Homo sapiens: one gene and its partner. The gene in region 2 interacts genetically with the main gene of each other region. Each region holds a gene or a part of one and is shown on either strand. Other genes may lie near its edges.

Evidence for each region.
Region 1: changes in PCDH20 (region 2) and SPPL3 together harm fitness less than expected from each alone (positive genetic interaction), as found in Homo sapiens cells (one large-scale study listed by BioGRID).

Annotation. Positions count from the first base shown.
Region 1 is NC_000012.12:120,762,010-120,765,184, reverse strand, and holds the end of SPPL3 (signal peptide peptidase-like 3), read left to right. Parts: intron 1-114; coding exon 115-186; 3' UTR 187-2,675; downstream 2,676-3,175.
Region 2 is NC_000013.11:61,409,185-61,412,849, reverse strand, and holds the end of PCDH20 (protocadherin-20 precursor), read left to right. Parts: coding exon 1-1,607; 3' UTR 1,608-3,165; downstream 3,166-3,665. UniProt on the Homo sapiens protein: Potential calcium-dependent cell-adhesion protein.

The DNA.
Region 1 (3,175 bases), on a different chromosome or scaffold from region 2:
CAATATATAGGAAGACTTCATACCTGGAAAAAAAATTTTTTTTTTTTAAAGAATCAGACAGCTGTGTGTGCCTCATGTTTAAATCTGTAACTTAGAAAGTCCCTTGTTTCCCAGGGCGACCTCCGGCGGATGTGGTCTGAGCCTTTCCACTCCAAGTCCAGCAGCTCCCGATTCCTGGAAGTATGATGGATCACGTGGAAAGTGACCAGATGGCCGTCATAGTCCTTTTCTCTCAACTCATGGTTTGTTTCCTCTTAGAGCTGGCCTGGTACTCAGAAATGTACCTGTGTTTAAGGAACTGCCGTGTGACTGGATTTGGCATTTAAAGGGAGCTCGTTTGCAGGAGAGAGGTGCTGGAGCCCTGTTTGGTTCCTTCTCTTCCTGCGGATGTAGAGGTGGGGCCCCTTCCAAGAGGGACAGGCCTCTCCCCAGCGCGCCTTCCTCCCACGTTTTTATGGATCTGCACCAGACTGTTACCTTCTGGGGGAGATGGAGATTTGACTGTTTAAAAACTGAAAACAGCGAGGAGTCTTTCTAGAACTTTTGAACACTAAAAGGATGAAAAAAATTAGCAAACCGAAGTTTCTTCAATGACCCCTCGAGAACTTTGGGACCAGTTTCCTATAGGGGACTCAGTTTCAGAGAACTGAGACAGAAGCTCTTCTGTCGTTATATTCTTCTTTCCTTTTTTTGGATTTATTAAATATTTTCTGTGGTGTGAAGTGACTTATTAAATCCACAGACATTGAGTGACTTCTTACAACATCCACATAAGAATTTGTTGTAATGAGTTCATGTCCACCCAGATGTTGTGTTGGCAGTGAACAAGGGCACGGTTTTTATACATACGTACATATATATATATAAACACACACATAGATATATATGAATAAACAAAAATGAAATCCTGCTAAGATCACGCTGTGTAGCTGACAGGGGCTTGCTGTCGTTTTGAGCATGTCGAGCAGTTTACTGTGGCTTCCTTGTATATGGATAAGCTGCTGTCCTTCCCCTTCACAACTGACCCCGCAGTTACAAACTAGTATAGCATTTGTGCTGATTGATGATAGACTCATGGACTTCAGGAGCCCTTACTTGGTTTTGATCAGTGTAGCAAATTAGGGATGAAGAGTTCAAACCTTTTGGCCCTTTCTTTCTTTTCTAGGCTTCTCCCTCGCAGGGTGTTCCGTAGTTTCTTCTCGAGCCAATGCATGTATTATAGCAGCAGGTGTCTTTGTGCTTTCTCATCATAGTAACGTACTACTTGTAAATACATTTTTCTATTTTCTATTTTTTTGTATTTTTTTTTTTGACATTTTGTTTCATTGGTGTGCTGTATATTTTCCATGCCCTCACTCCTTTAAGAAAAAAAAAAAGGAAAAAAGCAACACAATCCTGTCCTTGCTGTTGTGATTATAGTCTTGGTTTACCTGTGGTGACAACCGGGTGTTGGGGACACATGTCAAATGCCCCTCTGAGATGGGCCCTAAATTCCAGTAACTGGGGAAAGAACCAGCTGCTGTGTCCTGAGAGCCTGGCCCTGTGCTGTGGTCTCTGCTGCAAGCCCAGATTTCTGGGAGTAACTAGTGTTAGGTCTGCTGACCTTTACCTAAGCAGCCCCTGCCTGGTAAGAAGGTGCCCATTGTTCAGAGGCAAAGAGAAGCCTGCGGTTGGCATGAGGATGCCTGACAACAAAGGCTGGAGAAGGGCCCTGAGTTCCAGCCTCTCCCCAAGGGTCCCCGCCCCAGTGGCTGCCTCTGTCTTGACCTGTGTAATGAATTAGTGTGCTGTGTCACTGTGGCTTGAAGTCACTGTGGATCGAGCTCACAGGGGGCACCCATCCTGTTGTCAACAGAGTCTGAAGCAGTCAGGGTGTTGGATTCCTCTGTTGTTGTCATCAATTCCTGCTGAGGGGTTTCTGGGGTTTTGTTTTTAATAAATGACTCCTTTGTAGCCTTTGTCACATAATCTTCACTTTGGTTGTTGGTACCAAACAGAGCTCCCAGCCATCTCCTCCCTGTTCTGGAAGACTGATGGGAAGACTCTGTCTGTCCCCAGACCTGGTCATCTGCAGCTCTGGCCCAGTCATAGATACATCAAAGAACTGAAGCTTCTGCTGTCCACAGAACTCAAAACTGCCTCTGCATTGGGTGAAGACTAAAAATCCACTTGCGGACTCTCCCTTCCTTCCTTCTCAGCCCTCGAGGATGCATATAGCTAATTAAGCAGGCCCAGAGACAGAGAGGGGGGCTCCAAAATGACTCGGATTAAGGGCAAGTGCCAGTGATGGGTAGAAATAACGTTATCCTTCATGCCTGTAATCCCAGCACTTTGGGAGGCCGAGGCAGGTGGATCACAAGGTTGGGAGCTCGAGACCAGCCTGGCCAACATGGTGAAACCCCGTCTCTACTAAAAACACAAAAATTAGCTGGGCATGGTGGCAGGCGCCTGTAATCCCAGCTATTTGGGAGGCTGAGGCAGAAGAATCGCTTGAACCTGGAAGGCGGAGGTTGCAGTGAGCAGAGATTGCGCCACTGCACTCAAGTCTGGGCGACAGGGTGAGACTCCATCTCAAAAAAAAAAAAAAAAAGGAAATGTTATCCTGGCAGTGGGTCATTTTAATTTTTCTGTCTTTGTTTTCATAAGAAAATTAAATTCCAGACAGAAGGAACGTCGTTATTTTGTCATTCTCACTTCTGTGCAGGTTTTGGGGGGAAATACCCACACAGGGCTGTGAATGCACCCTGGATTCCAGTTGCTAATCTTCAAAGCCCTTAAAACACTCCCTTAAAACTTTGGCAGAGAAACAGCAAATACTCTACTCGTCTCGGAGGGTTGAGTGGGTGGCTGCAGTTAAAGCACACATTAGACTTCCCTTCCAGTGCTCGTTTGCTCCCCGCTGCCTGATACACTTAGGTCCGCCTCTTATTCTGTTTTCTCAAATACCATGGTTTAGGGGTTTTCTAGGAAGTCTGCTGCATTAGGCATGGCATGCTCATGAAATTTCAGCAGATTCCTTCCTCACTGATCTGAAGTCCTTTTTCCTCACAAAGAGACTGTGTGTTACTAGAACTCCCGCTTTTTAATAACTCTTTTTTCTAGTTTGAGCTAATGAAGATATGACAGTAAAGTCTGTCCAAAGCCTAGTGTGTTCCATTGCTGTTATTACAGTGCA
Region 2 (3,665 bases):
TTAAAGTTATTTTCAGACCCCCTGAAATTGTCCCTCGTTACATAGCAAACGAGATAGATGGTGTGGTTTATCTGAAAGAACTGGAACCCGTTAACACTCCCATTGCGTTTTTCACCATAAGAGATCCAGAAGGTAAATACAAGGTTAACTGCTACCTGGATGGTGAAGGGCCGTTTAGGTTATCACCTTACAAACCATACAATAATGAATATTTACTAGAGACCACAAAACCTATGGACTATGAGCTACAGCAGTTCTATGAAGTAGCTGTGGTGGCTTGGAACTCTGAGGGATTTCATGTCAAAAGGGTCATTAAAGTGCAACTTTTAGATGACAATGATAATGCTCCAATTTTCCTTCAACCCTTAATAGAACTAACCATCGAAGAGAACAACTCACCCAATGCCTTTTTGACTAAGCTGTATGCTACAGATGCCGACAGCGAGGAGAGAGGCCAAGTTTCATATTTTCTGGGACCTGATGCTCCATCATATTTTTCCTTAGACAGTGTCACAGGAATTCTGACAGTTTCTACTCAGCTGGACCGAGAAGAGAAAGAAAAGTACAGATACACTGTCAGAGCTGTTGACTGTGGGAAGCCACCCAGAGAATCAGTAGCCACTGTGGCCCTCACAGTGTTGGATAAAAATGACAACAGTCCTCGGTTTATCAACAAGGACTTCAGCTTTTTTGTGCCTGAAAACTTTCCAGGCTATGGTGAGATTGGAGTAATTAGTGTAACAGATGCTGACGCTGGACGAAATGGATGGGTCGCCCTCTCTGTGGTGAACCAGAGTGATATTTTTGTCATAGATACAGGAAAGGGTATGCTGAGGGCTAAAGTCTCTTTGGACAGAGAGCAGCAAAGCTCCTATACTTTGTGGGTTGAAGCTGTTGATGGGGGTGAGCCTGCCCTCTCCTCTACAGCAAAAATCACAATTCTCCTTCTAGATATCAATGACAACCCTCCTCTTGTTTTGTTTCCTCAGTCTAATATGTCTTATCTGTTAGTACTGCCTTCTACTCTGCCAGGCTCCCCGGTTACAGAAGTCTATGCTGTCGACAAAGACACAGGCATGAATGCTGTCATAGCTTACAGCATCATAGGGAGAAGAGGTCCTAGGCCTGAGTCCTTCAGGATTGACCCTAAAACTGGCAACATTACTTTGGAAGAGGCATTGCTGCAGACAGATTATGGGCTCCATCGCTTACTGGTGAAAGTGAGTGATCATGGTTATCCCGAGCCTCTCCACTCCACAGTCATGGTGAACCTATTTGTCAATGACACTGTCAGTAATGAGAGTTACATTGAGAGTCTTTTAAGAAAAGAACCAGAGATTAATATAGAGGAGAAAGAACCACAAATCTCAATAGAACCGACTCATAGGAAGGTAGAATCTGTGTCTTGTATGCCCACCTTAGTAGCTCTGTCTGTAATAAGCTTGGGTTCCATCACACTGGTCACAGGGATGGGCATATACATCTGTTTAAGGAAAGGGGAAAAGCATCCCAGGGAAGATGAAAATTTGGAAGTACAGATTCCACTGAAAGGAAAAATTGACTTGCATATGCGAGAGAGAAAGCCAATGGATATTTCTAATATTTGATATTTCATGGTGGAATAACACAGAGAAATGTTTTAACTGACTTTGGATCTTCATCACCTAAAAAAGAGTGTGTTGATGGCAGTTCCAATGAAGGACAACTAATTTATAACTTGTTCTATATTGTAAATAGCTGTTTACAGGTTTTTAAATTTAAATTCAGAGGTTATAAAATGTGTACAGCATTTTTAAGTGAAAATTAGTACTAACAGCTATAGGACTTGTATTTAAAAAAAAAAAAAAAGCTTGGACATGGTTTGCAGCTTTCATACACCAAGCAGATGATTGATAAAACCTGGGAGTAAGGTAAGAAAAATGGAACAAATTTTTATCTAAAAATTCCTGTCACCACAAGAGGGCATCAGCTGCTCCTTTGCAGGAAACTGGGGTATTGTACTTGGCAGTTGTACATGAAATTAATGAAAGAGTATATTTTAAATATATTGTTTTTAACATTAAACAAATATGAAATTAAAGTAAATTAAATTTCACCCTATTTAAACATATGATAAAAAAAGAAATGCACTTGTAAACAGAATGTTTATTACCTCATAAGTGCATATATAGTGTGAAAGAGAAGGCATTAAAAAGAAGTGCAATTCCTTTTTAGCAAGGATAAAATCATTGCCTTGTGTTACAGATTCAGCCTGCTGAAGAGTATTCCACTTTCTGTGTACTCGAATTGCTTTCTGTTTGCTTTACCACTGCACTTGTTATTATTACAAGGGAAATAGATTTATACATACATATATATATTCTTCATTACAGGAAATGTAACTAGATATTGTGCCCAAGAAAAACAGCCAGAAGCAAAGAAATGCTTCAATCTTTAGTTGCTTCATAGGCATTCATGACATTTTAGTGCTTTCACAACTTGTTGGTCGTACTTTATACTTGGGTTATATATTAGACTTTTATAGGCTTGAAATCATCCATCACATAAGAAAATAGAAATCATATTAAAAGTGAATTCTTCTAGAGGCTTGTGTACACTACTGGTTGTTTTAGTTGGGCCTTTTATATGAAAGTTATACTGTACTTATCTTTTTGTTGTTGTTTAGGTTTGTTGACTACCATTTCTGGCTTCCTTTCTTTGGTTTTGGATTAAATCCAACAGTTTATTTGTAAGCCCTGCAGCAGATTTCTTTGATAATTTAGCTTTTACTGAATCTCTTGCAATGAAGAAAGCTATTTCATCAGTGATTTATCACTTTCAATTCATTGTGTGAGCTGGAAATATTATTTTATATGAGAGCTATAGCAAAATAATCTGTATAAACAAGGAATGTGTTAGCTTAAACTGGATCATTTTACTTTTTGGCATCATGCATCTGTACTGTACCAAAAGTGTTTATATGTCTGCAAATTAAAGGTATATATTTTCATAATTTCTTTCTCACTTTTAGCATTTTATATTTGAACATGGGCTTGTTATTTCACTGAAGTGCCTGTCATTTGTTTGTTTTTAGGGTTAAATGTGGGTAACCTGTAGTATTCTGCTATACTAAAGTTTATATTAAATGAATTCATTACTCAATTAAACATTGGGTAAATTATTAAATGTGTGTGTAGTTATAGACATATATATAGTAGAAAGAGAGTATGCCTAAATGTTTGATGTAAGTTCATATGAAAATTTGCACCCATGTATGTGCACATGCATATTAATTTATTATAGATTTAATATCATTATAAATTTTCATTTTACTACAGATTTATAACAAATCCTCTGTTAGCTGTGTTGCAATAGCTTGCAATAATTTTTAAAACAAAAATACTCTACAAAAAAGACATTGAATGCAAACAACCAAGTTCTTTTAGATTTGTATTAATTAACTCATTTATCTTATTTTTCTTCAATTTGAGAATTTCAATAAATAAAATAATAAGTATATGAGGCAGCAATGTTTGTTACAAAAAGTAAATATATTTTTATTGGAAATTCCTTTTGTACGAGAGGCATCTGAGCTAAGAGACTAAGATCATTTAACCCCCAAAACTTTTCATTTATAACTGATATGTAGCAATGGAGGAAACATCTCTTACTAGTCATATTTTATT